Linked DNA regions of Homo sapiens. The protein of the gene in region 2 purifies or fractionates together with the protein of the main gene of each other region. This does not show direct contact. Each region holds a gene or a part of one and is shown on either strand. Other genes may lie near its edges.

What was found.
Region 1: the proteins of PRICKLE3 (region 2) and TUBGCP4 purify together in Homo sapiens (affinity purification with mass spectrometry; 2 studies listed by BioGRID and IntAct, with this or other methods). This does not show direct contact.
Region 3: the proteins of PRICKLE3 (region 2) and PPP1R7 purify together in Homo sapiens (affinity purification with mass spectrometry; 2 studies listed by BioGRID and IntAct, with this or other methods). This does not show direct contact.
Region 4: the proteins of PRICKLE3 (region 2) and ZBTB10 purify together in Homo sapiens (affinity purification with mass spectrometry; 2 studies listed by BioGRID and IntAct, with this or other methods). This does not show direct contact.
Region 5: the proteins of PRICKLE3 (region 2) and EPB41L1 purify together in Homo sapiens (affinity purification with mass spectrometry; 2 studies listed by BioGRID and IntAct, with this or other methods). This does not show direct contact.
Region 6: the proteins of PRICKLE3 (region 2) and TUBGCP6 purify together in Homo sapiens (affinity purification with mass spectrometry; 2 studies listed by BioGRID and IntAct, with this or other methods). This does not show direct contact.
Region 7: the proteins of PRICKLE3 (region 2) and TUBGCP3 purify together in Homo sapiens (affinity purification with mass spectrometry; 2 studies listed by BioGRID and IntAct, with this or other methods). This does not show direct contact.

The regions. Positions count from the first base shown.
Region 1 is NC_000015.10:43,384,379-43,388,660, reverse strand, and holds part of TUBGCP4 (gamma-tubulin complex component 4), read right to left. Parts: intron 2,871-4,282; coding exon 2,705-2,870; intron 2,456-2,704; coding exon 2,331-2,455; intron 1-2,330. UniProt on the Homo sapiens protein: Component of the gamma-tubulin ring complex (gTuRC) which mediates microtubule nucleation.
Region 2 is NC_000023.11:49,183,031-49,187,742, reverse strand, and holds the start of PRICKLE3 (prickle planar cell polarity protein 3), read left to right. Parts: upstream 1-1,369; 5' UTR 1,370-1,445; coding exon 1,446-1,487; intron 1,488-2,849; exon of another isoform or gene 2,850-2,917; intron 2,918-3,032; coding exon 3,033-3,118; intron 3,119-3,825; coding exon 3,826-4,009; intron 4,010-4,712. UniProt on the Homo sapiens protein: Involved in the planar cell polarity (PCP) pathway that is essential for the polarization of epithelial cells during morphogenetic processes, including gastrulation and neurulation.
Region 3 is NC_000002.12:241,167,257-241,171,538, forward strand, and holds part of PPP1R7 (protein phosphatase 1 regulatory subunit 7), read left to right. Parts: intron 1-419; exon of another isoform or gene 420-481; intron 482-2,524; coding exon 2,525-2,611; intron 2,612-4,282. UniProt on the Homo sapiens protein: Regulatory subunit of protein phosphatase 1.
Region 4 is NC_000008.11:80,520,726-80,525,007, forward strand, and holds part of ZBTB10 (zinc finger and BTB domain-containing protein 10), read left to right. Parts: 3' UTR 1-4,282. UniProt on the Homo sapiens protein: May be involved in transcriptional regulation.
Region 5 is NC_000020.11:36,157,469-36,161,750, reverse strand, and holds part of EPB41L1 (band 4.1-like protein 1), read right to left. Parts: intron 1-4,282. UniProt on the Homo sapiens protein: May function to confer stability and plasticity to neuronal membrane via multiple interactions, including the spectrin-actin-based cytoskeleton, integral membrane channels and membrane-associated guanylate kinases.
Region 6 is NC_000022.11:50,227,594-50,231,875, forward strand, and holds part of TUBGCP6 (gamma-tubulin complex component 6), read right to left. Parts: intron 1,985-4,282; coding exon 1,811-1,984; intron 436-1,810; coding exon 314-435; intron 1-313. UniProt on the Homo sapiens protein: Component of the gamma-tubulin ring complex (gTuRC) which mediates microtubule nucleation.
Region 7 is NC_000013.11:112,578,005-112,582,286, forward strand, and holds part of TUBGCP3 (gamma-tubulin complex component 3), read right to left. Parts: intron 1-4,282. UniProt on the Homo sapiens protein: Component of the gamma-tubulin ring complex (gTuRC) which mediates microtubule nucleation.

The DNA.
Region 1 (4,282 bases), on a different chromosome or scaffold from region 2:
TTTATAATTCAGTCAGTACAATTTTACTTTCTTCCATTAATTATACTTTCCAAAGATTTATAATAAAAATGATAAAGCAACAGAACTAGATTCAATTTTCAAAAATGAAAGGAACTGATACCAACCCCTCTAGACTAGAAACTGCCTTGGCCTATAGACGGGGTTGAAGCAATGTCTTAAAATTTTGAAAGGACAGGAACATGGGTCATTTAGATATTTACTTGCCCAGAAAGATTCAAATCAAATGATACTTCACAGCCATTTTAAGATCGAACATTCTGTGTCTATATCACAGCTCTACCTCTGATGACCAGGAGTTTTTGAGACAGTGACTAGAAAGGGAAACCATATTTATAATAGATTACTGTGCTTCTAACCCATGGAGATTTGATGCTCTTAGCAGTTCCAGACACTGAACGAAGTGCACTGCTTTTTAGTCCTGTCTGTTTCAAAAACCCCTGTAGAGGTTTGTCTTTGGTGGGTGGACTGGCTTGCTTAAATAGAAGTACCTGCCGGGCGTGGTGGCTCACACCTGTAATCTTAGCACTTTGGGAGGCCAAGGCAGGAGGATCACTTGAGCCCAAACGTTCAAGACCAGCCTGGCCAACATGGTGAAACCCCCATCTCTATTAAAATACAAAAAAGTTTGCCAGGCATGCTGGTGCAGGCCTGCAGTCCCAGCTACTCAGGAGGCTGAGGCACGTGAATTGCTTCAACCCGGGAGGCGGAGTTTGTAGTGAGCCGCGACTGCTCCACTGCACTTCAGCCTGGGTGACAAAGCAAGACCCTGTCTCAAAAATAAAATAAAATAAAGGTACCTACCCTCTCCTGACCTATGAATCAGAAGCTCTGGAAGTAAGGACTTGGTGCAAGTGCAGGTTTTAAAATTTCCTCATGCGGGCCAGGCGCAGTGGCTCACATCTATAATCCCAGGACTTTGGGAGGCTGAGGTGGGAGGATCACTTGAGCTCACGAGTTTGAGACCAGCCTGGCCAACATGGTGAAACCCCATCTCTACTAAAAATACAAAAATTAGCTGGGCATGGTGATGTGTGCCTGTAATCCCAGCTACTTGGGAGGCTGAGGCGGGAGAATCGCTTGAACCCAGGAGGCAGAGGTTGCAGTGAGCCGAGATCACACCATTGCACTCCAACCTGGGTGACACAGCAAGACTCCATAAAAAGATAAAAAATAAAAAATAAAATTTTCTCATGCGATTCTATGCTTAGCCAATGTTGAAAGCCAGGAATATAGTTAACAACACAGCTGACTAAATGTCTCATTTCGTGTTATCACATATCCATGAGACAAATGTTAATATAAGCCACAGAACATATATGCTCCTTTGAAAAATTACTGGTCACAATTTAAGTCGGTGGCACCAGCACAATTCAAAATGAAGAAGACTGTGCACCAGGAGTCGGAGGCCTGGCACTGACCTCACTATGGCTACTCACTGTGCCACACCAGGCAAGCCAGACAAGTCAGCTTGCTGAGTGTTTGCTTCATTTATAAGAATGAGAAAATAATATTTGTTCTGCTTTCCTCATAAGATGATTGTGTATAGAAATGAAAGTATAAGTTATGAGCCATACTAAACTACAAGACACAAAATTTAGTCAGAATTAGTTGATTCCTAGGAGTTATTGCAAACGATAGAGACAGATCCAAAATGCTGATTTTCAGAATTTAAACCAAGATCCCCCCTTTATTCAACTAACTAACCAACTAAAAACCACCTGTCTTTTAGTTAGATAGGAAAATGGGAAGGCAGTTCTGCCTCTGTTAATGAAAACAGAGGCTTTTCTTTTCTACTTTCTGCCTTCAACTCTCTGCAACATTTCTTTCCAAGCTCGGTTCTTAACTCATCAAGACATCAAGATAAAAACAAAAGTCAAGTAACTCAGTGTCTTTTTTTTTTTTTTTTTTTTTTTTGGAGACAGAGTCTTGCTCTGTTGCCCAGGTTGGAGTGCAATGGTGTGATCTCGGCTGACTGCAACCTCCGCCTCCCGGGTTCAAGCGATTCTCCTGCCTCAGCCTCGTAAGTAGCTGGGACTACAGGTGCATGCCACCACACCCGACTAATTTTTGTATTTTCAGTAGAGACGGGGTTTCACCATGTTGGCCGGGCTGGTCTTGAACTCCTGACCTCAGATGATCCACTTGCCTTGGCCTCCCAAAGTGTTGAGACTGCATGCGTGAGCCACTGCGCCCGACCAAGTAACTCAATTTCTAGGAAACTAGTCCAATTTTGCCTAAGAAAAAAAAAAAAAAAAAAAAAAATATATATATATATATATATATATATATATATACGATGAAACACAAACCTCAGCCACAGTGCTGCGAATGCGATCCACCACCTGTTCAAAGTCCACCAAGCTGAAGAGTGGCTGCTGCTTGAGACGGTGCAGCTCTGCAGCAAAAGTGTCTTCCTGGTTTTTCAAAATGGATCCTGCAAAATAGGAAGACACCGTCAAAGGAGGACGGAGAATACCCAGGACAGTTAGGGTTTTCTGGGGAGGGCTAATCTCAGTGGGGCAGCAACTTCACCTGCTTCTCAGACAAACGTCATGATTCTGCTACAATCTCAGGATAGGAATATTATCGACCACTCGCTCTGACCAGGCATGCTGTGGGGCCACATAGTATTAAGGAAGAAGAGATTTTGAGGGTGTGGTACATTGGACAAGGAGATTTCTACCTTTTCTAGTCAGGTTCACATTTTGATTCTCAAACATCTGGACAGATTCTCCAACAAATAGGATTTTTTCAGCAACCCTCACTGGAATGTAGGATGGCAAAATCTCCACTCGTAGGGAAAACTGCTTCAGAGATGGTGCCAGCATGTTCTCTTCCTCAATCAGGCGCTAGTCAAGGAAAGAGTACACATCGAGATGCAGTGTGAAGCAAGAAAAGGAAAACAAGAAAATACCTAGTAACTCTCCCAACCCATGATTTAAAATAAAGACGCAGGGACTTCAAATCTGGTGTTGCACAGTTCTCAAACCACCCATTTTGGAGAGATGTATTTCATCTTCAGGCAGCAGAGTGGCATGGTGGAAATAAGAGTGGCTTAAATACTGGGATTTGGGCCCTCACTCTGCCTTTACTACTGAGTAAAAACTTGCACAGTCGACCAGCTTCCTTACTTGTACGATGAAAGAGGTGGTCTTTTTTGTTTTCCAGGTCTTCTCTCTATGTCTTCTCTGCTGGTGCTCCTCAGGGCACTGTCCCAGACTGTCTTTTCCTCTCAGCCTACACTTCCTATACAATCACATCGTCTTCTGTGACTGATCAGTGTAACAGATAGTTTTAATTTTTAGGTCACAGACCTCTCTGCAATCATAAAAGCTATGGATCTTCCAGACAAATGTACAGACATATAACATTTCATGAACCTCCTGAAGCCACCCAAGGGCCCCAGATTAAAAACCTCCAAGCCCCATGCTGATGATTCCATATGTAGATTTAAAGTAAGCTGGAGTGCTCTCATGAGCCCCAGGCTCAGCCCACTGAACATTTCCCACAAGTTCCTCAAACTCAACATGCCCCCCATTAGACCCATCTTCTTCCCCGCATACCAGCAGTATACACCCCTATCGTCACTACTTGCCCAGCTGCTGAAGGCAGAAACCTGGGTATCATCAATGATTCTTCCCTCTTGACTCATTTCCAAGCACTCACTAAGCCTACTGATTCCACCCTCTAAACATCTCTCACACCTCTTTGCTCTTTTTTCATATTCAATGTTAGTATCTTTGGTTTAGGGGACTATTATTTTCACCTAAGTCTCCCCAACACTCTCTTAACTGATCGACCTGCCTCTAATCTTGATTTTTAAAAAATGATTCCCCACACAGCATCCAGAGTGATTTATCATGAAGTCTGACTGTGGTACCCACTTGCTTAAAATTCAATAGCCCCCAACTCTTTTCAGGTTCAAGTACAAACTCATTTCCACTGTTTACATGCACCTTTGTGATCTTGCCTCTGCTTAACTCAAGTTTCATCAAGTACCAACTTACACAGTTTCAAGTACCACCTCTCCCTCACACCATCTCTTGTAACATTTTACTTCAGCCTTTATTTGATCATTTCAATTGAATTACTACTGTTTCCCCAAATGAACCATGTCCTTAATGGCCCCTGTACCTTTACACATATCATTCCTTCTGCCTGGATGTCTCTTGATGGCTCCTCCCAAACTCTTTGCAATTTAGACATACCTTCCACTGAAAAGCCTTCCCTAGTCACTCCAAGACCCTATCCCATGACCATG
Region 2 (4,712 bases):
GGGAGAGGTGGTGAGAACAAGCTCCACCCGGACCCACCGACCGCAGTTCAGCTTGCTGCACCATTTCAGGCCCCTTCAAAAGTGTTAGGCAGAGCAGCATCCTCTGGGAAGCCTCTCCTGCCAATCACTCTGTCACTCTCTGAGTAGCCCTGCTCACCCTCCCACTACTGGCCACCAAATGCCCGGTCTTTCTAGGAGTTGGTTCTAATTCTGGTCCCTTAGCCAAGCCTCTTCCGAGCCCCTGTGGAACCCTCTCCTCAAATCCCCAAGGGGTCCGAATAGGAGGAAACCTCACATTGCCTGACCCCATCCCTAATCTTCAGACCCTACTGTCTCTCCTTTCCCTGCCTCCGCCCAGGCTGGAGAAATGGGAGACAGGTTAGGCAAGGAGGGGAGGTGGGGCGCCGGGGTGACTCCTTAGTTCATTAGTTATTCTCTTTTACCTCTCCACTCCACGGGAAGTGACAGGGACATGTGTAATGGGGGGCGGGGAGAGGTCCCCGGGGCCCGCGATGAAGGGCCTGGCCGCTGCAGTCTCCGTGCATAGAGACCCGGGCCGAGTTCTGACTGAGGCCATGGGACCCCCTCCCCCCAGCCCGGAGGCACAGCCAAGCCTGAGAGCGTGAAGGAGAGGCTCCCCGCCCTGGAACTGAGCTGGGGAAGGGGATAACTGGAGAGAGAAAAATGTGGGTGGGGGAGGGAAGGCTTTAAGATCTACTTCTCAAGACTTGGGGTGGGGGGACGGGGCTGGACAGCTAGGCTTATAAGGATGAGGGGAGAGAGGGGACGAGGGCTTTGGAACCTGGCCTCGCTGAGAGGGGAATGAGAAGGGAGGAGTGCGTATAAGATCTAGCTCTCTGGTGGCTAGGGCCAGGTTCCCAGGTTCCCAGCGAGCACCAGCTGGGGCTGCGGGTGAGGTTGGGGCCCATTGTTGCAGCATTCATCGGGGAGACCCTCGGAACCTCACCAGTGGGGAGGAGCCAAGAGGTGTCTTTAACCCCTCTCCCAAATAAGCATCCGAAATAAATCGACACAAAACGTCAACACAAGCACCCTAGCGCGCCACCCCTCTCAGTCCAGTTGGCCACCTCTGAGTCTCCCCATCCTCCACTACAGAACCTTCAAGCCCCAGGTCCCGTGAGAGGCCACGTGGCACGCCGGGATTCTGGGGGTCGTGCCTTGTGACGCCCCGCACCGGCCCGGAGCGGGAGGGCAGAGGCCTTTCCCGCGGGGCACTCCGGGCTACGTGCAGTTCACCTCTAGGCAGGGGGCGCCCTGGCAGCGGAGAGACCACATGCCCGGGGGCGGGCCCTGCGGGGCGCGCTCCTCCCACGAGGGTGTCAGGTTTACGGAACCGAGTTCCCAGGCCGGACGCGCGGTGGCCTGACGGTCGCAAGGATTACATTCGCCTGACCCGGCCCGGCTTGACCCTGCCCGGGCGCGCCATGTTCGCGCGTGGGTCCCGGAGGCGCCGCTCCGGGCGTGCGGTGAGCGGGAGTCAGGGCAGCGGTGGGGGTCGGGGGTAAACTGAGGCCCAGGCAAGGGGGCAATGGATAGGCATAGCGAATAGGTGCCCCACAGAGGATCTGGGAATCCCATCCCCTGCATTCCCAGACCTGGGGCTGGGGCTGCTGGAGGCGAATGGATGGAGGAAGGTGTAGATCTGGTGGCCCAAACCCCCTAATCACCTCTCCACACACTTTCATCAGCACTCCTGGGACCTGGTGGGGACCCCTCTCTTATGAATTGTGGGAGGGAATCCTGAGGGCCAGAGAACTGGGTCTTGAAGCCTTAGGTTGAGCAGGAACCTCCTGAGCTGCTGCTTTTTTTTTTTTTTTTTTTTTTTGAGACTGAATCTCTGTCACCCAGGCTGGAGTGCAGTGGCGCTATCTCCGCTCACTGCAACCTCCGCCTCCTGGGTTCAAGCGATTCTCCTGCTTCAGCCTCCCATGTACCTGGGATTACAGACGCCCGCCACCGCGCCCGCCTAATTTTTGTATTTTTAGTAGAGACAAGGTTTCACCATGTTGGCCAGGCTGGTCTCGAACTCCTGACCTCAGGTGATCCGCCCACCTCGGCCTCCCAAAGTGCTGGGATTATAGGCGTGAGCCACCGAGCCTGGCCGACCTCCTCAGCTTCTAAAGGACACAGTACCTTGGAGGAATGTGCACGGAGGGATGGAGTCCTACACTCCTGGGATGCCGAAATGCTGAGAGTCAAGAGACTGGGATTTGGGGGGACAAGGCTTCCAGGGTTCCGCCTGAGCAAGGGAGTTTTTGACTTCTTAGATAGGAGGTTCTTTCACTTCCTTTGGAGTGGGTCTCTGACCTGGGAATGTGGGGTCTGGGTTTGATGGTCCGGAGAAGGAATAAATAGCCCTAGGATGGGATGGGTAAAGGCCAAGGTTTCTTGGGATGGGGGTTTCTGAATGGAGCAGGGGCCTCCTGAGATCCTGGGGAGGGTCCCCAGTTCCTTGGGTATCAGGGCATGAGGCCAGGGTTTAGGGGAGGAGCTCCTGAGCTTCTGAAGAGAGGGGCAGGGTTCACGTGGGGATCTCAAGGAAGAATGCGGTCTCGTCTCCTACCCTGTGGAACTGGAGTGCTGCTGGCGGCGTAGATGGAGAGGGAACCGGGATGAGGCCGGGGAGAGGATGCCCAGAGTAGGGGTTCTGTGCTCTAGTGGGGAGAGTACAATGAATTATAGGGGAGGTGCTTGAGCCCTGGAAGGATCTAAGGCTGGTGGGAGGTGTCTGAGGCTAGGGGCGGACGGGGAGGGGGGTCCGAGGCCAGCCTAGGAAGGGGAATTCCCTGAAAAGGGGACATATAAGGAGGTGGCTCCAACTGCCCCGCCTCTGCCTCGGTTGTGTCCCGCTCCCCCGCACTCTGGGCGCTGTCCCAGCCTGCCCAGCGCTGCCCAGGTAAGACAGGCCCCAGCGTGCGGTCGCGGGCAATGAAGTGGAGGGGCGGGCGTTGACTTCTCCTTCCCTGCTTCCGCGCCTCACCCGGCCCTGCATCTGCCCCCGCCCACTGCAGCCTCCAGAGGCAGAGGACCCAGACCGGGGCCAGCCCTGCAACTCCTGTAGGGAGCAGTGCCCTGGCTTCCTGCTCCACGGCTGGAGGTAAGTGGCGCCCCTAAAGGGCCTCGCCTTTGTCAGAGCTCCGCCTTCGGGGGGAAATCCAGGAGCCTTACGCCACGCCCCTACGCTTGAGCTCCGCCTACAGAGGGATCTCAGTTGGGAAAAGAGCCTCAGGCTCAGATTCAGAGCCCCGCCCCCTGACTCATTCCCCAAAGTCCTTTCCCAGGAGAGCTCCACCCACTACGCAGCCCCGCCCCCAGAAGTGTTCTCCCGTAGCCGCGGAGTCGCATCCCTAGGGAGATTCTTCGTCTCTAACTCTGAGCGCCGCCCTCTGGCCTCCAGCACCCCTCTTAGACTCAGACCTACTCTCCCAGGCCCAGCGTCCTATCCTCCTGCTGGAGCCCTGCACCCAATAAACAGAGCCTACAGCCCCCAGACTCAGGCCCTACCCACAGGCTCAGAGCCCACAAGTTCAGAGCCTCACCACAGGTTAGATGCCTGTGTCTAGTGAAAGTTCCCCCACAAAGCATCCCACTCCCCACGACCTGTCCTCTGGCTCACAGCCCAGCCACACCCTGGCTCATAGGCCCACCTCCTGCAGCCCTGCCCCCAGGCCCAGATCCCTGTCCCTGCTCACAGACCTTTGGTGGTGATAATCTGTATGTCCCCGCTCCTCCATTGGACCTGGGCTGCCGAGGGGTTCGGGTGGGCAACTCCTTAGTAATTGACCCCCATCCCGGCCCCCTCAGAAAGATCTGCCAGCATTGCAAATGCCCGCGGGAGGAGCATGCAGTGCACGCGGTGCCTGTGGACCTGGAACGCATCATGTGTCGGCTAATCTCGGACTTCCAGCGCCACTCCATCTCCGACGACGACTCAGGCTGTGCATCGGAGGAGTATGCCTGGGTGCCCCCAGGCCTTAAGCCGGAGCAGGTGACCAGAGGCCAGCCCTCCACTCTTGCTGTCCAGTGGGTGCACACTAATGCTCACACACACACACACACACTCAGGTGGGAACCTATTTCTGGGGCTACGCTAGAGTGTGCAGTCAGACCGAGGGTCCTTCTGGCCCCTCTGTGATGGAAGAGTGGTCAGCCCCCCATACCTTGGGTGACTGAGGGACCAGTTCCTCAGGGCCTGTTCACCCCAATCCTATTATTTTTGATTGATTGTTTTTGAGACAGGGTCTCACTCTGTTGCCCACCACAGCCTCCCTTGTAGCTGGGACTGCAGGTGCATGCCACCCTGCCTGGCTATTTTTAAAATTTTTTTGTAGAGACAGGGTCTCCCTATGTTGCCCAGGCTGATGTTGAACTCCTGGGCTCAAGTGATCCTGCCTCGGCCTCCCAAAGTGCTGGGATTACAAGAGCAAGCCACCATGCGTGGCCCCACTCCCTATTCTACCCTCCCAGCACTTCATTCACCACATGACTTCATTGATTGACTCATTCAACACATAGTTATGGGGCACCTACTGCATGTGAGACACTGTTCTAGGCACTGAGGACACAGCAATGAGCAAAACACAAAATAACATATCTGCCCACGGGCACGGTGGCTCACGCCTGTAATCCCAGCACTTCGGGAGGCTGAGGCGGGCGGATTACTTGAGGTCAGGAGTTTGAGACCAACCTGG
Region 3 (4,282 bases), on a different chromosome or scaffold from region 2:
AAAGGCCTTTGTGCCTCAACCCCAGGGCCTAGTTGGCAGCAGTAAATTTCACCAACACCTGCATAAAATTTTGGAAAAATTCAAATTTGCCTGTGGAAAGTTTGGTCACCTTCCTTTGACTTTGCATTGAAATTAAAAGTTTATAAAACTAGCATGCAAACCAAGTGTTCACCTGTGTAGTTTAGAGTGGTAAGTCGAGACGTGCCTGCAGTGGAATGGCGCTGAGGACTGTGTGGCAGGGGCTGGGGTTGGGGCCGGGTGGGGTGCGCAGCAGGGAGCCCTGGTGCCCTCCTGCACCCTGGCCTCCCTGAGCCAAGGCCCTGCAGTCACCACCAAGCATCCACCGGGAGACAGACAATCTGCAGCACAGTTCACATAAGCAGCCAGTCCCAGGAAAACTGGAAAGAAGTGTGGTTCAGAATTTTACCAGTAGAAGTGCTACACTGTGATCTTGGTTAAACACCAGATTATTCTTGGGCCTCTGAAACAAAACAGAAAAAAAAAAATTGTTGTATTAAAGGTAATTACGTTATTGTAATCTTCATCATGATCAAATGTGACAGTCTTTCTTCTGCCATTTTTTTCAACTAAAGATCAGACAAATATTTTCTCCTAAGTTTTGTTTCTTAATTTATCTGGAATTTATTTTTATGGTGGGAAATAAGAAAGTAAATGTAGTTTTGTCCCAGGTGGGAACTTAGACGACACCCCCCATCCCAGTGTCTCACGACTCCTGTCTTGTTCTTCGTGTCTTCTCCAGCTCTGGGCTCTCCCGTTGGTCTAGAATATGTTTGCAGTGGTCCCTGACAGGTGTAGTTTCTGTGGCGTTGTGTCATGCCCTTTGGTGTGCCTGCTCTCCTCACCCTGTTCCATTCTTTTTTTCTGTTTCTTAAGCAGTTCTTACTAGTTTGCTTTTGGATGAGTTTTCACAACATTGTCCAGCTCCTGTAGAAAAACGTGAAATAGTGTTGAGTGCCTACATGGATCCCTGAGCTCAGAGGTGATGGACCGGTTCTGACAGCCAGAGCCCACCACCGGCTCTGCCCCTCGTGCTGAGCCTTGGTGCTTGGACCTCACGAGGCTCAAATCCTGCGTGTGTTCCAGGCCACTTTCATTTTGCCAGTTTCTGGGCTTGCATACCAGATGACCATGAGCATCTCAGAATGGTGCAGAGTGCGGGGGAGAGCTGCCGTCCGTGCTAGAGAGGCCTGTTCCAGCCCCACCGCCAGGCGGTGTGTCGTTGGATTACCCACAGTCGCGTCTTCTGCAACATTTTCCTGCAGTCCTTTTTGCTCTGAACCCGCCCCACTGAGCTCCCTCGCACACTGTTGAGCCTGATACTCTGTGAGCAGACCTGACCAGGGCACCGAGATGGGGTGGTTTGAAGGCACCTCCTAGGCAGCATGCCACGTATAGCCTGCTGGAGAGTGGCGTCAGACTTGACACACGCAGCTGGTGCCAGCTGGGGTGCTGGGCGCCAAGGCAGCAAGGGTGGTACAGCCAGAGGAGCTCCCAGGCCACAGCCATAGCGCTTTCGAATTGGGAAAGCTACTGGCTGGGTACATTTCAGGGGAGATGGGGGGAGGAGTATTTGCTTTTGAGAAATTTTTTAACTTTCCCTTAAAACTTAGAAGGCTTTGGAATTGGAATACCAAAAATGCAGTAGAAAACCAAGGAAGGGACTCAGGAGGGAGCAGAGCGTGAGGGCAGAGAAGGGAATGAACTTTGTCAGAGGTTCTCAGACAGCTTGTAAATGTTTTCCTTTTGATGAGAAACAAAATTATTACTCAGGCTTAGCTAACATGTATTGGAAAGTGAGTAACTGATGTGCATTTTCAGAGTAGAAGATCCTAAAAACACACTCTTGTCTCCCAGTGGGGGCACACACCCTGCAGCAGGTGCTCAGCAGGCCCAGCACCCAGTCCTCAGCATGGGTCCCTTCTCTGCACTTATGCTCCCGGGACCCTTTTCCCAGACAAGAGTGTAGGCCTGGGGTCTGAGAGTCCTGCCTCTCCCACTGCTACTGTGCGCCTGGGCAGATTCTTAGCCCCACTGAGCCCCAAGTTCCTCATCCCTAAATGAAGAGAGGAACTTTGTTTTGAAGATTACTTGGTCGTACATTTCCTCGTGATGAGCACTAAGTAAATGTTTCTACAATTGTCAGCCTTTCTTCAGAGCGTCAGGGGGTTACTCGGTTCTTCCTGGGACCATCAGTCTCACTAGGTCTGTCTCAATGGACAGGGATCTGGGAGGACTGGGCTTGGAGTCTGACACAGTCTCAAATTCCAGCGATCAGGAGAGCTCAGGGAGATAGCTGGGCAGGCTCTGATGGAAACACTGTCCCAGGGAGGGCTGCAGGAAGCAAGCAGGTCTCGTCACCCTCCATAGCATGCCCTTACCCTGTGAGGGCAGAGAGGGCAGTGCACCTGCAGCCCTAAGGTCAGCACTTGACACTGCCTGCGTGGTCATGCAAATCACTGTTGATCAGAGGTAATCCAGGAAACATTTTATTTCCTTCTTTTAGAACAAACTCACGATGTTGGACATTGCATCAAATAGAATCAAAAAGATTGAAAATATCAGCCATCTAACAGAGCTGCAAGAGTTCTGGGTAAGTTTAATACACGCTGGGGTTGATGACACTTTGACTAAACTGGTCTCACTGATTAAAATGTCTTATGAATGAATACAAGAATCTCCTGTAAGCCTTCATGCTGAGTGACTCCGCACATCATGAGATTTGGGGTGGGCGCTCTTGTAGACTTGTATTGGGTGTTGTCTGTGCTCCTCAGCGTGAGCCACAGATCAGCAGCATTGACATAGCTTGTTAGAAATGCAAAATCTTGGGCCCCACCATAGCCCAGATGAAAACTGAGTCAAAATCTTTGCTTTACAAGACTCCGGGTGATTGCAGTACACACAAAGGTTGGAGAAGCCCTGATCTAGGTATGGGTAGAACCTACAATTGTCATTTGACCAAATGGTTTGCAAACCTCAGCAGAGAGGCAGACGCATTCCCTACAGATATATTCCAGCACAACAGAAGGAAATGTTGGATGGGTTTCTGCAGTTAGTCATCTTGGAATTTGCCTTGTATTTGTCTTGTCACAGGTATGGTTTCAGGAGTAGTGTTGTGGAGTCAGCAGGAAGAGAAACAGAATATAAGAAGTTTTTGCAGTTCCTCTAAAGGGGTTGGGAAATGATCCCCGAGTGGAAGTCTTCAGTGCTAGGATTCCCTTAGAGAAATCTCCTAAGGTTTATTGCCTTTCCGCTAGCACGTGGCCCTGCAGAGACTGCGGCACAGGTGTCACCCTGTGATGCTGGGAATGTAGTAGTGTCCTCAGATACATTCAGTCTAATCCAGGATTCATGCTGAGTGTAAGGCATCATTCTTCCTTGTCTCTCCTCTAGCCGTGCTGCTGACCCTGCTTATGTCCTGTGCTTTCTCCTTTCCCCACTTTAAAAGGTCATCCAAGTTTCCCTAGAACACAGGTGGCCTGCTGCAAATGTTCCTTGCCCCTTATTAGTGGCACTGGGTCTTGAGTAGTGTCATGATGGGATACCAGAGCATGTCTGGGAAGATCAGAGCCAGAATTTGGCAGGTGATAAAGATGTACCAGGCCAGGGGGAGCCTCAATGAGTCCAGGTGGGTCTATGTGCAGCCCACCCTTGAAGGAAGGTGTGGCTGGTGGTAGGCTGGTTGAATTAGTGCATAGGGAGTTGGCAAAGAAGCCAGGGAACAACACAAAGAAACCAAACAACAGGAATAAGGAGTCCAGAGACAGAGGACCAGGTGATAGGGAAAGGGCACCTGGCAAAAAATTAGGGAGCAGGTTTGGGAAACGAGCTGATACTGAAGCAATGTTCCTGAAGCGTAACGATTCCTTCTGCATGCCCTGCCTAGGAACAGAGCATGGGGCACAGAGTGCTGAGACCACAGGCAGGGGCCAACCTGGGTACCACAGCTAGCAGGGAGGCAGGCAGGCTGGTGATCAATCACTAGGGGCCAGGTAGTGCCTGACCCTGTAACACAGAAGAATCCTGTTCCTTAGGCCACCAAAGATAGTAAAAAATAGCCAGAATTTGCACAGCGCTTTATGGTGTCCATACCTCTCTCCATTCTGATCCAATTATCACAGCAACCATGTGGATAAGGTCATATTACCCCATTTTACAGGTAAAGAATTGCATTCCAGGAAGGAAAGCTGCAAACCAGGAATTCTCAAACTCAGTTCCATGCTCATATCACATTTGAGAGGCACATCATTCATCTCTAAGGCAG
Region 4 (4,282 bases), on a different chromosome or scaffold from region 2:
CCATGATTCAACAGTCTCAAAAATCTTACAAATAAAATTCTGAGAAGCTTTATTATTCTATAAATTCTTCAGGGTACAAAGGGTGACATATTGAGGTGAAATTGTCAGATTTACTTAGCCTGGTGACATGAATTAGCTGATTGTGGAACTCTCAGCAGCATTTCACGTATTGTTAACATGTATGGCATTTATTAGCATATTGTATATTATATAAGATTGAGGGATGTCATATTTTCAGCTTTCTTTTAAATAAAAATTGAGTATATTTTCCTATTTTATATCAGGTAACTAAATTATGCTAGTTATGTGGAAAAAATTGCAAAGATGCTTTGACAGATATAATCCCTTTGGTGCTCCATCTGATCAAAGTTGAAAAGTTGATGTTTTTTAAGAGACAAGCTTTATCATTGTCTCTGATTTCAGTAGAATAATGGTTTATTGTTAGACAATGATGTTTCTGCTTGGATAAATCAAAGATAAATTACAGTTACATGGTTAGATGCATCTTTTGTCATCTATATTGTAGTTTCTACATAACTGTAAACCTGACAGATAAGAATAGTTTCGGTTTGATTTTTGTTTAAAACAGATGAGTACTTCTTAATGTTCTAGACAAATGAGTAAAATGTATTTCTGGTAGAAATTAGTTGGGCAAAGATACTATGAATGAAAAAGTATTTTAAACGTAAAATGTTCTTTGTGAATATGTAAGTATAGTATAAAGATTTCTTTCATCCCATTTATCCCCTTCCTTTAAATAAACTAGTTTACAATTGGTAGATCTGTCTATATATAAATATATATTAAAGAACAAAGATATATATCTAAAAATCACCTAAATCTGCTTTATTAGACTACAGTTCACTTATTGCATAGAAACTGGACTTGGCTTTACATTCTTAATGTACTTTTACTTTTCCTCAAGATATGAACTTACTCTCTTGAAGCTGAATTTTCTTTTACTACTTAAATCATTTATGTATATCTGGTAAATTATGACCAAATTTTTGTTAGATTGCATACAGTAAATTGAAATACACACTTGGTACACTACGGGATTGTTGTGCTTTTGTTTGGTTTTAGTTGGAAATAAGGTTTGATGTAGATGGCTTGTTACTGTTAATTTAAAATATTCTATAATTGTCCATTACTTTATGTTGTGTTGTGACAGATTTGGCTATATTTTTAGTCAATTGAAATATGATACTTTAAAAGTTTGTTTTTAGGTAATCCAAAGGAAAAGTGTTTATACTCTTGAATATATTAGCCTCAGCCTATATAAAAATTTCTTTGAAGTAAACATTTTACCGGAAACAGAATTGACAGATTTTTCTACTTGCTGACTGCCTAACTTATTTTGTTTCATGATCTCGAGGGACTGCCTTTTCCCATCTAGATCTTTTAAAAAAATAGTTTTAGTACTAAGGTATACTACTGGACATTTCTATTTTTTTAAGTGTATTCTTTTTCTGACTTACAGTAAAATTTCAGGAAGTTGATAGATACTAAGAACTTATGATTGGTCTCAGAGGTAACAATGAAATACTCATAATTTTGTCTGTGGAACTCTGGCAGAATTATGTTACACATTTGGCGAAGTTGTCTCTTGTAATTTATATTTTAAATGAAAAAGTATTTTAGAGCTTTTAATGAAGGGGAAGAGTATAAACTTTCTTTCATATTCACTCTGTAGTTACAGACCGTCTCATAAATCAAGATTGTGCATTATTAGAGTTCTCAGAGACAGATACTTCCATATGGACCCCTGTTCATTTTTCTTATTTACTAGATATTTTGCTAAATTTAGCACACTAGCAATTAAGAGTTTAAAAAAGAAGAAACGTTATAGGAAAGGGAAACTGAACAGTAATGAGTAGCTTTGAAATTGGGGAAAACACACTAGCTGGGTTAGGTACAGCTATCCTAATGGAGAAGAGTGAGCTAAATGCGTTAATTCATGTAAAGTGCTTAGAACACTGGTACATAATAGGTGCATAACACATCTTAAAGTTGTTTAATAATAGATAAGAACCAAGAGGAAAAAGAAATAAGAAAAGATGGGGGAAAGGAAGGAGAAAATAGGAAATGAAAGGATTAGGACTTGGGCATTTATATTAATACAAAATGGTGTAAACGGCCTGAATATCACTGTAGTAGTATCATACGGGGGAAAGTGTGATGGAAAATAGGTTTAAAAATCTTAATTTTTAAAACTTTAGTAAGCTTTATTTATATTTTTTAGGATTTTCTGAACATAGCATGAAGGGTTTAGATTCATTTTTCTGAAAAACGATTAAAAAAACTACCAATTTTTTTTTTGAGTGCCCACACTTGCCGTTGTGCTGTATACATGATTTTACCTTAATCCTCTATAAGGTAGGTGCTAATTGTCTCCATTTTATAGATGAGGAAAGGCTCAGAGAAATTCAGAAACTTGGCTAATTTAACACAGCTGTGACAGAGCTCGAATTTGACCACGTCTGATTCTGAAGCCCATACTCTTTCAGGGAGGCTCTATTGCTGCCTCATTAAACAACTCTTGTAGAATTTCAGCTCTTAATGGAGTCTATGGATTATATTTTTCCTATAAGACAGCTGTGTTTAGAATTTTGAGTGTCTTTCCTCCCCCCAATAAATTTCCTTACTACTCTTTCTTCATAAAGCAGTTGTTTTGTCACTTTGACTATATTAAGACACATCAGTGTAGCACATGCTCTTAACTGGCTGTGGCATTTTAATTTTATAAAAGAATGGTTTTTATCTGAAGAACTAGATAGAAACCCCAGTTTTTGTGCCGTTCAGTCACCCAGATCCTTAAACTTAACTATGGTACATAATATCCACACTTAGAACTAACAGGTGTTTAGTCACTTTAGGACTTAAAATGGAAAGTTTTTTTTTTTTTCCTGCTGTATCTCTGCTTTCAACTGAAGTTAAAGAATTCTAGATAGTTTAAAATGTGTTAGGGATAAGCACACTTCAAAAGATGTTTTCTAGCCCTAAATTTTATGACATTGGGTACTTAAATTTGGAGTACACTAGCTATTGAGAACAATATTTTGGGTTGAGGAGAGATGGTTGAGGCCATTATTTAGTGGGAGCATTGGCATTTTGAACACTGTAAACAAAAGAACACTTCCGCCTGCTGTTTGTAAAAGCTCTTTGGGAAGATCTTTTACGAAGACCAACTTTTTAAAATGTAAATTACCTACCTAATATAAGTGTCCTAAGACATGTATGTAAACTTCCGGAACTGTTTTGTCTGTGTATTTAGAAAATACACAAGAATCTTTATTCAAACCTAAAAATATAAACTTGTGAGCACTAAACTGCTTCTGGCTTTGTGAATTTTATTGACTGACATTTAATTCAGATTTCTTTGCAAGTGTACTAATTTAGACTAATTGGGGTAAGGGGAACACCTTAATGAACTTTGACTTATGTATAATTCAGATATCTTTGTACTTAAGGCTTACAAGTTTGAATTATGGAATACTATAAGGGTTTTTTGTTTATTTGTATGTTTTTATATGAAAGTACATAAATGACAGACTACCTCCAAGTAATCCTGCTTTAATTAATAGCAGTGATTTGTAATCAGTGTATCTTTTAAGATTCTCTACAGGTTTTAGAAAATATTAAAAATTCCCTGTAATTTACATTTGTGCATAATCTTGGAAATGGGTTGAAAAGCAAAGGTAAACTGCTTCATCCCATGTTGTATATTTGTGGACTGATTGACTACAAGTGATGTGATGTTATAAATTTGAAGTCTTTGAAACTTTATTAATGTAGAGAAAACATAACTAGCTTTTTAGGTTATTTCAAAGTTAGTAATAGAGCAAAGGAAATCAGAACTGGCCAGATATTCAGACTTGACTTAGAAAAACAGGAGTTTGTTGATTTTGTTTGGAGAAGGGCACAATAAAGGGGAGCCCACATAGCATTATAATGCCTAGTATCTTTAAACATGTAAAGAGCTATCATGAGGCAGAAGAATTAAGAAACTTTATATGTTTCTAAGGGGTCATGATTGGGACCATTGGCTCAAGATTGAAAATCGGTTTTTAATTATCCAAAGATGAAATGGGGCTGCTTCAGAAAAAGGTCTACCACTGGAGATAACGCTATGAAAAGTGAAAGAGATTACTTAATCATTTTGACAAAGGCAGTATTGACCAGACATTTCTATTTCAGAGTTGGATTTGTGCTTAGTTTTTTTTAGGTGTTGGGACCCTTGTAGTTGCTTTTTATTTTGCTTAGTCAACAAACACTAAAATGA
Region 5 (4,282 bases), on a different chromosome or scaffold from region 2:
GTAATCCCAGCACTTTGGGAGGCTGAGGCAGGCAGATCACCTGAGGTCAGGAGTTCGAGACCAGCCTGGCCAACACAGTGATAACCTGTCTCTACTAAAAATACAAGAACTAGCCAGGCAGGTGGCACGTGCCTGTAATCCCAGCTACTTGGGAGGCCAAGGCAGGAGAATTGCTTGAACCGGGGAGGCGGAGGTTGCAGTGAGCTGAGATCCTGCCACTGCACTCCAGCCTGGGCAACACAGCAAGACTCCATCTCAAAAACAAAACAAAAAAACCCAAAAAACAAACAAACAAAAAAATAAGAAGAATAAAATAAAAAGAAAAAATAGAAAAACAGATAATGCACATGAAGCTTGCTCTAGCACAGTATTTGACATATAGAAGACACTCAGTGGCAGCAATGGCTCTGATCACCACCAGACAGATGGACAAACTGAGGTACAGAGAAGGTAGAAAGCTTGTCCAAGGACAGTCTGGGTGTGGGCAGCTGCACAGCCCAAGCAGCAGCTTAGAGCATCCTAAGAGAATTTGAAAATTTCCTAGGAGAGCTCCATACTGGGTGGGTGAAAGAAAGGGTCTTTCCCTGGGACATCACCACCTTTTGAGGGTGACAGAGAGATGGCCTCCTCCAAGACCAGTTCCCCCAGGCTCCAGTGAGGAGAGGAGGGAACAGGAGAAGGGAGAAGCAGCAGACCTTTGAGGGCAACTCTCACGGTCTCATGGTTTCTGACTCCTTCTCTCACTTGATTTTCACTAATTGTCTAAATACTGTTAGAGTTCAGTTAGCGTTACTTAGAATACCGTAAAATTGGAAACAACTTCAAATGTCAATCAACAGGGGGGCTGGCCAAATTAGTAGGGTTTATCCATTAAAAATTTAATTATGAAAGTATAACATACCTATTGCAAAAATTTTTGAGATAGATTTTATATCTACTGACATAAAAAGATGTCAATGTGTAGTTACATGAAAAATGCAAGTTGTAAAACAATAATGCAATGTATGATCCCATTCTGGTTTGTATGTTTATGTTGGTATAGAAAATATCCTGGAAGGATACACAACATGCTGTTATTAGCTACGACTGGAGAGTAGGATTTGTTTGGGGATCTAAGGGGAGAATACACTTTTTTTCTTTCTTTCTTTCTTTTTTTTTTTTGTGACGGAGTCTCGCTCTGTCACCCAGGCTGGAGTGCAATGGCGCAATCTCGGCTCACTGCCCCACAACCTCTGCCTTCCGGGTGCAAGAGATTCTCTTGCCTCAGCCTCCTGAGTAGCTGGGATTACAGGCGCCAGCCACCATGCCCGGCTAACTTTTTGTATTTTTAGTAGAAATGGGGTTTCACCATGTTGGCCAGGCTGGTCTTGAACTCCTGACCTCAGGTGATCTACCCGCCTCAGCCTCCCAGAGTGCTGGGATTATAGGCATGAGCCACCGTGCCTGGCCTACACTTCTGAATTATTAGATTTTCCACAAATTTTTTTTGTAATTAAAACTAAAGAAAAGTAAATATAACAGTAAAGAAATATTTGTTTTTCTGTTTTATTCACTTCCCATATGCTTGCTGGAACTCCATTTTCTACCTGTTTTCTTCCAATCTGTATCTATGTTCATACCTAATTTTATACCATTGTAATATGAATACTGATAATCTTATGGGTCTTCTTTCCCATTTAACATTAATTGTATCAGACCATTAATGACATCACATCATGACATCATCATCATCTCCACTAATGTTCATGGATACTTCACTATGTACTAGTTACCATGCCAAGATGTTTACATGCCTTAACTTATTCAATCTTGATGACAACCCTAAAACCAGGTACTTGGACTATCCACATTACAGCTGGGCAAACTGGGGCTTTGAAAGATTAATTAACTTGCCAATTGCCTCACAGCTAGTAAAAACAGAAAGAAGACTTAAACCCTGTTCTATGCAAGTGCCAGGTCCTCACTGGGAACCTCTCTGTCCTATTCCCCTCGAAGATAGTGAGTGGTTAGTGAGAAGAATGTGGCAAGTAGGGAATAGCAAGAATATGGCAGGCACTATGTCTTACAACTTGAGTGACCTTGATCAAGTCACTTCCCCTCTTGATTAGTTCACTCATTCTTTCATCGGACAAGTATTTGCAAACCACTGAGCAACATGCTGCGACGAAACAATGAATAAAATGTGAACTCAACTCTGCCTTCAAGGAGACTGGAGTCTAGCGTCATTCTCTTCAAACACAGAAAGGATCTAGCCCCGGCCCCACCTCTGTCGCAGAGCAGTCATAAGCACAAAATGAATCAAGGATGCAAAAGAGCTTTGCAATTGCACAGCTCCATCCACTGCAAGCAGTTTTTCTGTGGGTGTTCACCACTGCGTATTATTTTATCCAGTGGATGTTCCAAAGCTTTCCCAATCATCTTCCTATTGTTGGACACTTAGTCCCAATTTACTGCTATTATAGAGGAAGCTCTGATGGGGATTTATTCAAAAGAAATAATTCAAAGGAAAAACAGGCCAGATGTGCAAAAAAGATGCTACCCAATCTTCCAGATGACTAAAGGGAGACCAGCCCTTCTCAAACTCACCAGGCCTGAAACAGAATTCCTGACCCTGTGGCCTTACCCACTCCAAGCTCCTCCTTCTCCAACCTGGCGAACCACCCACTACCAGAGGGACACCTTAATGAGTGCCAATCTTGATCCCTCCCCAGCCCTCCAAGTCCCCACAGTTAAGGTTTCTCCTGTAAGATCACGTCCACCCTCTCCTGTGGATCATACGGTTGCCAAAAGGACCTTCCCAAAACACAGTTCTGTCATGCTCCTCAGCAGACTAAAATCCTGCAAAGATTCCTAGAGCATCCCGGCTCACGTCAAGTCGAAACACCTTGGCCTGACATTTAAGAGAGACAGAAGCGGGAGAGAAGTAATGTTTACTGAGTTCCTGCAATGTGTTAGCATTACACTAGGTGCTTTATATAACAACCACAACATGGTCCCTGTGAGACAGGCATGTTTATCTGCATTTTACGAATGAGGAAACTGAGGTTTGGGCCAGCTGAGTGATGTGCCCAAGGCCACGTGGCTAATACAATGCATTGCTGTGACTATAGCCTACGTCTGGTGGATTCCAGAGCTCCATCAAAAACCCAAACACTAGGTGACTTTCTGAGTCACCTCCCAGCTCACACTCCGCCACACACACTATCTGTTCCACGCACATCAGACCGCCCACTCTTCTTCAGAGGCATTCCTATTTCCTTCCCCTCTGACCTGGGGAAGTGGGTGCCCTTCCCCCTTCAACCATCGAAATCCGACTTGGCCTTCAGTGCCCAGCTCAAAGGTCCCCGTCTTCTTGAAGCCTTCCCTGAGCACCAAAATAGGAATCCATGCTGAGCCTATGCAATAGCACACTCTTTACTTTTAGTGTGTCATGTCTGCATCTCTCCCAGCTAGACTGGGAGGCCTTTGAGGAGAGGGATGCATCTGACTGAGTGACTATTTCAACTTGAACAAAACAGAGTATGGCCTCTGAGAAACTACAGGCTGCCTGGCATGGCCTTCAGGAACATGGCTCTGACCCACACTGCCTAGGTTTGAATCCTGACTCCCCCACAGCCTAGCTATTTGACCTTGAACAACTATCTAAGCCACAGCTCCATCAATCTGTAAAACGGGAAGAATAACTCCTATACCTCATCTACACCTCACAGGGCTTTGTGAAGAACGTATGAGTTGTACATGGAAGCCCTTAAAACTGGGCCTGGCACATAATAAATGCTCAATAAATGTTAGCTGTTACTATTCTGATCCACAAGCCTCTAGCCCACAAAGGAAGCAGTGCCAGCCTGCTCCACCCCCACCCATCCACCAAGGCTCAGCTCCCTGCCCACAGGGCCTCCTTAGCCCAGTCCCCACTGTGGCCTCGGGATGTGTCCAGAGCCAGCCCATCTTCCCTAAAAGCCAATGGGAGCAGGGAGTCTGGTGTTTCCCCACTTCTGGGGGACCCTGGCCAGGAAGGAGAAGGCCAAGGCTAATCCTTCTCTGAGAGCTCCTAGTCAGTACTTATCTACCCCTACCCCTCAGCACTATAGTAATATTCAGTCCACAAAGCCACCCTTGCCTCACCAGGCACACACACACACACCCCTCACACACCTCTCCACCTGGACTGGCCCTGGCCTACCAATGAATTGCCTGGCTCCACTGGACACCAACCTGGTACTTCCAGATATTGCCCCCAGTAAATGTCATGGTAGAAAGAAGGGCTCTGGACTCAGACCGC
Region 6 (4,282 bases), on a different chromosome or scaffold from region 2:
CCGAGCCTGGTTGCTCACTAACCAGCTTGTGTGTACCGGACGCCACATCTCCAGGGACCCTGTGTGCCAATTAGGCAGGAGCCACCGGACCTGGAGGGCCTGGATGGGGCCAGCTGTGGTGGGCCCACGGCAGACACACCCGCTCAGCACCGGGCACCTGGTGAACTCGGCCGGCCAAGGGCCATCCGGTCGCCTGCTGAGGGCTGTTCTCACAGGCCCTCCTTGCCAGGGAGCAGGGCAAACCCTCCACCACCCAGCAAGCCCCACACCGCTCCCGCAAAGTCCCCTGCTCAGCCGCCATGCTGAGGCTCACCTGAGCTGCCGGCCAAGTTTCTTGAAGAGAAAACCAATGGTGAGGAGGCTCAGGGTGGGCGGAGTGGAAAGGACGCAGGCCCGGTAATACTGCAGGTACCTCCTCAGGCCACTGGTGAAGGCCTGTGGGCAAAGAGGCTGGGAGGAGGGCGGCCAGGCACATGGACGCAGCCGTGCCCAGGGCCTGAGGGGCACCAGTGCTGGGAACAGCGCTTTGTTTCTTGCCTCAGCTCTGGGCTCCATTTCCAAGCAATGGGCCTCTGTGAGCCACACCCCGCCACCGGGCCAGGTGGAAATGCGGCCCATCCACAAGAAGCCAGAAGCTGTGGCCCACCACCAACCCTTCCTCTCATCTGAGCCCAGCTGCCCCAGGGGCGCCCACCACCAACCCTTCCTCTCATCTGAGCCCAGCTGCCCCAGGGGCGCCCACCACCAACCCTTCCTCTCATCTGAGCCCAGCTGCCCCAGGGGCATGGCAAAGGGGCTGGGGGGGAAATGGCGGCCGTGCTCTGTGCACAGACACTAGTGCTGTGAGGGCTGCAGCTGCTCCGACCACAGCTGTCTCAGTGGCACCAGCATCCTGGGCAACGCCACAGCAGCAGGCCCTGCAGGTCACACTAAGACAGGGGCACCCTGGACCAATCTCAGTCCACCCACCCCAGGAGCCGCCTGGCTATGCCTGCCAGATGAACAAGAACCACAGTCCAGCCCTTCTCAGCGTCCCCTGCTCTGACCCCTTCTCCACCATCTCTAGCTCTCAAGTCCCCCGGGGCTGAGCCTCTGCCTAGAAGCTCTCCCCGCCCCGTGCAGCTCCCACCATGCCCACCTCCACAGCCCATCTAAAACCTACACCTCACCACATCACCCCACCCGACAGCCCCTGCTGCAGCAGCAACAGTCAAAGGAGGCTGCGCTGCCTGGCTCCTCCAGGGCTCTCTGCCCACCTTCCCCAACACCCTCCTCTCAATCCCCCAAACCCAAATGCCCCATCATCCACCTGCCTATTCTCTCCCACTCAAGGTGCAGCCCCTGTCCCATGGGCCTCTTCCCAGCACATGAGCCAGCTTCAAGACTCACCAAACAGCAGCTTCCGGAGCCAGACTTGGCTCAGAACTCCCAGCAATGTAAATTCACCCAACAGGAGGGCCCTGCGCTGTCAGTCATCCACAATGTGCCGGGCCCACTGGGGAGCAGGCAGCAAGAGCCCCACTCACGCCTTTCCTGCCCTGCGCACCCCTTATGCTGGCTGCACCTGCCTCCTACACACCCCAGGGCCCACACAGCCCAGGGCCCACACACATCTGCCCCAAGTTTCTAGTGAGGTAAAACATCCTCACTGACCCATCCCTCAAGAGCCACTATCGGGTTTCAGATGTTAGCAAGGAAAGAAAAGGTTTAGACTCTCTGGTCCTGCAGAAGGACCTCTGAGATTCTCTCTTCCAGGTCGTGTGCACCGTTCTCACAAAGGTGTGTGACAACCATGAGGCAAAGGCCATACCTGGAACACGAGGCCCTTGCTGTACAAAGAGTCCAGGACGGGCTGCAGAGAGAAATGACTCAGGCGCGTGTAGCAGGTCCCATACTCGGCCACTTCCGAGAGCAGGCTGCTGATGCTCTCGGGAGACGCTCCTGACACGTGGACGCCCCGCTTCACCACAAAGGCCTGGGCCGGCTGCACAGGGGCAGAGGACACTGGTCACAGAGGCCAGGCACCCAGACCCCCAGTAAGGTGCCGTCTCCCTCCACCCTTGCACCCAACCCCACGCCACCTAGAGTGCCTCCAGGACCCAAAAGCAAATGCCCAGAAGGCATACCCAGAACTCCCACACCGAGGGACCAAACCGAGGCACAAATCCTCACTGACCACACTGAAAAATACATGTTTAAAATGCCAAGTGTAGAAAAGGGTAGAAAAAAACAGAACACCTTCCACAGGACACAAGTACACAGACAGCCTCCTGGGGCAGAAGCTATAAAACATGACGGCCGTGAGACCCGCTCATTTGACTCTTCGGGATGAATTAGAGAAATGATGGAAGATGCACAAAGACTCGCCACAGGACATTCTCCACAGTATGTTTATAACCAGAGAGTGGAGACCCCCAATAGAGGGCTCATGACAACCAAAACGAATGGGGTGTAGCAGAAGCCAGAAGGGAGGTTACAGCCGCAAATACCCACGTTAGAAAGGAAAAAAAATATCCCGCAATACAAAGGAACAAGATACCAAACCACAACAGCACCGTGTATACCCTAAAGAGATATTTTAAAAAGAGCTGTTAGGCCAAGCACAGTGGCTCACACCTATAATCCCAGAACTTTGGGAGGCTGAGGCAGGAGGATCACTTGAGCCCAGAAGTCTGAGACCAGCCTGGGCAACATAGCAAGACCCCCATCTCTAAAAAAATTTTAAAAGTTAGGCCAGGCATGGTGGCTCACGCCTGTAATCCCAGCACTTCAGGAGGCCAAGGCAGGTGGATCACTTCAGGTCAGGAGTTCATGACAAGCCTGGCCAACATGGCAAAGCCCCGTCTCTACTAAAAATACAAAAATTAGCCAGGCATGGTGGCGTGCACCTGTAGTCCCAGCTACGCAGGAGGCTGAGGCAGGAGAATTGTTGAATACGGGAGGCAGAGGTTGCAGTGAGCTGAGATCACGCCTTTGCACTCCAGCCTGGGAGACAGAGCAAGACTCCGTCTCAAAAAAAAAAAAAAATTAAAAATTAGCCAGCCGTGGTGGTGCATGCCTGTTGGTCCCAGCTACTCGGGAGGCTGAGGCAGGAGGATCAATTTGAGCCTAGGAAGTTGAGGCTGCAGTGAGTCATGTTTGAGCCATTGCACTCCAGCCTGGGTGATCCTGTCTCCAAAAAAAAAAAAAAAGAAAGAAAAGAAAAACAGGCTGGACGCAGTGGCTCACATCTGTAATCCCAGCACTTTGGGAGGCCGAAGCAAGCGGATCACTTGAGGTCAGGGGTTTGAGACCAGCCTCACCAACATGGTGAAAACCCATCTCTAATAAAAACAAAAATTAGCTGGGCGAGGTAGTGCACGCCTATAATCCCAGCTACTCAGGAGGCTGAGGCAGGAGAATTGCTTAAACCCAGGAGGAAGAGGTTGCAGTGAGCTGAGATCACGCCATTGCACTCCAGCCTGGGCAACAGAGCGAGACTCTATCTCAAAAAAAAAAAAAAAAAAAAAAAAGCAGTTAAACCCAAAACTAGCAGAAGGAAACAAAAAATAATTAGAGCAGAAATAAATACAGAGTAGGCCAAGCACAGTGGCTCACACCTGTAACACCAACACTTTGGGAGGCCAAGGTGGGTGAAATCACTTGAGGTCAGGAGTTTGAGACCAGCCTGGTCAACATGGTGAAACCCCATCTCTACTAAAAATACAAAAATTAGCCAGGCGTGGTAGTCCATGCCTGTAGTCCCAGCTACTTGGGAGGCTGAGGCAGGAGAATCGCTTGAACCCAGGAGGCGGAGGCTGCAGTGAGCTGAGATCACACCACTGCACTCCAGCCTGGGCGACAGAGTGAGAATCCGTCTCAAAAAGAAAAAAAAAATACAAAATAGAAAAACAATAGAGAGAACCAAACAAAAAGCTGGCTCTTTGAAAAGATCAACAAAATTGACAAGTCTTAGCTAGAATAATTAAGAAAAAAGATGACTAGGGCCAGGCACGATGGCTCACGCCTGTAATCCCAGCACTTTGGGAGGCCGAGACGGGCGGATCACAATGTCAGGAGATCAAGACCATCCTGGCTAACATGGTGAAACCCCGTCTCTACTAAAAATACAAAAAATTAGACGGGCGCGGTGGCGGGTGCCTGTAGTCCCAGCTACTCAGGGAGGCTGAGGCAGGAGAATGGTGTGAACCCGGGAGGCGGAGCTTGGAGTGAGCCGAGATCGCGCCACTGCCCTCCAGCCTGGGCCACAGAGCGAGACTCCGTCTCAAAAAAAAAAAAAAAG
Region 7 (4,282 bases), on a different chromosome or scaffold from region 2:
AGGCAGGGCTTGCATGTCTGACTAACGTAAAAGAGTCTTGGAACATGTCCGGGGTCCAGGGTCTAAAATCCCTTGAGGCCTTTGGAACGCCAATCTGTGCTAAAGGGCGGAAGGCTACCCTGACGCACCATAATCTCAGCCCAGGGCATAAAACCCCTCGTGGCTTGGATGGAATCCAGGACTCGTGGCTCTGGAATGTGTCTAGACTTGCTGGCTCCTTGCTCCTTGCTCTCCCAGGATCGATTGTATCTTGAGTTAAAAGAACCTGCTCTCGGCCGGGCGCGGTGGCTCACGCCTGTAATCCCAGCACTTTGGGAGGCCGAGGCGGGCGGATCACGAGGTCAGGAGATCGAGACCATCCTGGCTAACACGGTGAAACCCCGTCTCTACTAAAAATACAAAAAATTAGCCGGGCGTGGTGGTGGGCGCCTGTAATCCCAGCTACTCGGGAGGCTGAGGCAGGAGAATGGCATGAACCCAAGAGGCGGAGCTTGCAGTGAGCCGGGATAGCGCCACTGCAGTCCAGCTTGGGCGAAAGAGTGAGACTCCGTCTCAAAAAAAAAAAAAAAAAAAAAAAAAAAAGAACCTGCTCTCCATTATCTCAAGTAGCAGAGCAGATGCTAAATCATCACACCTGTAAATCATGTGCTTAATGCAACGCGACCTTTCGACCCCCACATTCTCACCACCTGTTTCTTTGTTTGATCACCAATAAATAGTCTGGGCTTCCAGAGCTCAGGGCCTTCACAGCCTCCATACTTAGCGATGGCCCCCTGGACCCACTTTCGCTCTCAAACTGTCTTTTCTCATTCCTTCGACTCCACCAGACTTCGTCACCCCCACGACCTGGTGTTGGGTCTGATCACCCCAGCAAAAATTAAATAGAAGAGTAAAACATAAGCCCCTCTTAGAAATAAAACAAAACAAAGAAATCTTTGCAACTTTGAGTTTGGCAGAGTTCCTACATGACACCAAAATGATGACCCATTTTTTTAGAAATTCATACATTGGCCTTCATCAAGATTAAAAACTTTTGCTCTGCAAAAGACACTGTTAAGAGAATGAAAATACTGAGAAAAAATATGTGCAAAACACAAAGACATAAGCAAAAGTTTTGAACAGATAATTCACCAAGAAGACATATGAATGGCAAACACACACACACACACAAAGATGTTCAACATCACTAGGAAAATTAAAATTAAAACCACACTGAGATATCACAACACACTTGCTAGAATAGCTAAGATTAAAAACCACTAACACTGCTGAGTGCAGGTGGGGCCACGGCATCCCTGGAGCTCTCCCACACTGCTGAGTGACAGTGGGGCCACGGCATCCCTGGAGCTCTCCCACACTGCTGAATGCCCGCGGGGCCACGGCATCCCTGGGGCTCTCGCACACTGCTGAGTGCCAGCGGGGCCACGGCATCCCTGCAGCTCTCCCACACTGCTGAGTGCCCGCGGGGCCACGGCATCCCCGGAGCTCTCGCACACTGCTGAGTGTCAGGGGGCCACGGCATCCCTGGAGCTCTCCCACACTGCTGAGTGCCGGGGGGCCACGGCATCCCTGGAGCTCTCCCACACTGCTGTGTGCGGGTGGAGCCATGGCATCCCTGGAGCTCTCCCACACTGCTGAGTGGGGGTGGAGCCATGGCATCCCTGGAGCTCTCCCACACTGCTGTGTGCGGGTGGAGCCATGGCATCCCTGGAGCTCTCCCACACTGCTGGTGCAGCGGCAAAGCAGCCACAGCCATACTGGAAAAGAGTCTGGCAACTTCTGAAAACAATGAGCATGCACCTGCCCTGAGGCCCAACAACCCCACTTGCAGGTGTTTATTCTAGAAAACTAACTTAAGTTCACATAAAAAACCTGTCCATGAATGTTCATAGCAGCATTATCCATAACTGCCAAAAACGGAAGCACTCCAAATGTCCCTCAGTGGTAAAATGGATAAACTGGTTCATCATACAATGGAACACTACTCTGCAATGAAAAGGTGAACTATTGATATGGCACTGTAAATGCATCTCAAACGCGTTATACTAAGTGAAAGAAACAAGTCTCAAAACTTTTGACTGAACACTGTATGACTGCATTTACGTGAAATTCTAGAAGCGGAGACATACACAGACACAGGATGGTGGCGGCCAGCACAAAGGCAAAATGGTAGCACAGAGGAAATCACTGTGAACCTAAACACTGAGAATTTTTTTAAATGGGCTAAATAGCAGAATGGAGATACTAAAGGACAATTTAAATGCAAGCTAGAAAATCAAACACAACAAAAGAACAGTTAGAAATTATGAAGAAAAAATAGTAAAATTTTTCTATCATTAAAAAAAAGTCAGCCCTGCGTGGTGGCTCACACCTGTAATTGCAACACTTTCAGGGGCTGAGGTGGATCACTTGAGCCCAGGAGTTTGCGACCAGCCTGGACAATACAGCAAGATCCTTCTCAAAAAAAAAATTCTAAGTCTGTCACTAGCTTTGAAAAAAATAATAAATTTTAAAAAAAGGAAAAGTCCTCAGATTGAAGGATCATCAAGTGTTAATCCAGGTAAATTTTTAAGTTCCACACCTAGACACATTATTGCAAAATTTCAGAACATGCAGGATTTTTTAAAATTCTAAAAGCTACCAGACACATCTTCAAAGGAGTAAGAAATGGATTAACATCAGACTTCTCATCAATAATGAAAGAATACCTTCAAAGTGGGCAGAGGAAAAACACTTCAGACCAGAATATCTATATCTGACTGATGATCCAAGAGTTCAGGAATAGAAGCGTAAGAGAAATAAAGACATTTTCAGACTATTAAGTAATTATTTAGATCAGCAAATCCTGTTGATTCTATTTCTAAAAGCATATCCCAAATATGATCACTCCACAGCTACCATCCCATTACAGGAAGTCTCCTGAGGAGCTGCTCACTTGCTTCCACCTTTGCCCCCTTAGAGTGAATTATCCACCCAGCAGTCAAAGTGATCCTCTTAAAATATAAATATTATCATCACTCTGCTCACACACCCATCACACTCACAACAGAACCCAACCTCCTGGCCCCAGCCCAGGGAGCCGGCCCCTTGCTCCCCACATTGCACTCCTGCTATTCCTGGAACACACCAAGCTCACCTCCAGCTCGGCACCCAGCTCTCTCTTCTCCACATCCTCTAAGGACTCACACCCCCCCATCTTTCTGTCCCTATTCTAGCTAAAGCAGACACAAGCGCACTGTGTCAGCAAGGATCCAGTGAATGCCTGCATAGTGGGGAAAGGAACAAAATGAAATCTAAAATGTTTTGTGGGGTCACAGGGTCGGGGTAGTTTTTTTCTCCTTATATTTTTCCACTTTCTGAATTTTTACACTGCGTATATATTAATTTTACAAATATTAAAAGTATCATTGAAAAGTTTCCTTTAAAAGTTGTGTCACTATTTAAGAATTTTTTTTTTCCCAGACAAGGTCTCACTCTGTCGCCCAGGCTGGAGTGCAGTGGTAAGATCTCGGCTCCCTGCAACCTCTGCCTCCTGGGCTCAAGTGATTCCCCCACCTCAGCCTCCCAAGTAGCTGGGACTACAGGTATGTGTCACCACATCCAGCTAATTTTTATATTTTCTGTACAGACAGGGTCTTACCATGTTGCCCAGGCTGGTCTCGAACTCCTGGGATCAAGCAATCCTCCCGCCTTGGCCTCCCAAAGTGCTGGGATTACAGGTGTGAGCCACCGTACCCAGCCAGTAAAAATTATTTTTAGGTTACCATTTTCACACTCAAGTACATCACATAAATATCCCCAATCCAAATGTTTTATATACTTTTCAACTTTCTCATACCAAAAAGTTAGGAACTCTTCAATGCCAGAAACACTCTCCTCTTCACCTCCTCACTTTCTCTGCACCTCAGATGGATGTCATCATTTCACCCCCACTTACCTCTTCAGCCACACCTGAGTCTCCCTGTCCTCTTACCAACCAAATTTCCAGTTTATCCTTCTTGCTGATTATAAAATATTTTTAAAAATCCAACTGTTACCTCTTAAACCAAATCTACTTAATCTGTGCTTCAGAGGGAAAAGCACAGAATCCAGACTACTAAAGAAATTAGACATAGCAATCATTCCTTGTTTAGTGAACCTGCAATCAAAGAATAAGCTGGGAAAAAATCAAGCAATGTCCACTACACGCTTCTGGTTTAAATACTCCCAAAATACTGTTCAGTGTTTAAAGTATAACTAAACTCAATCAGTAATTCAATGAATAACTCCTAAATACTTACTA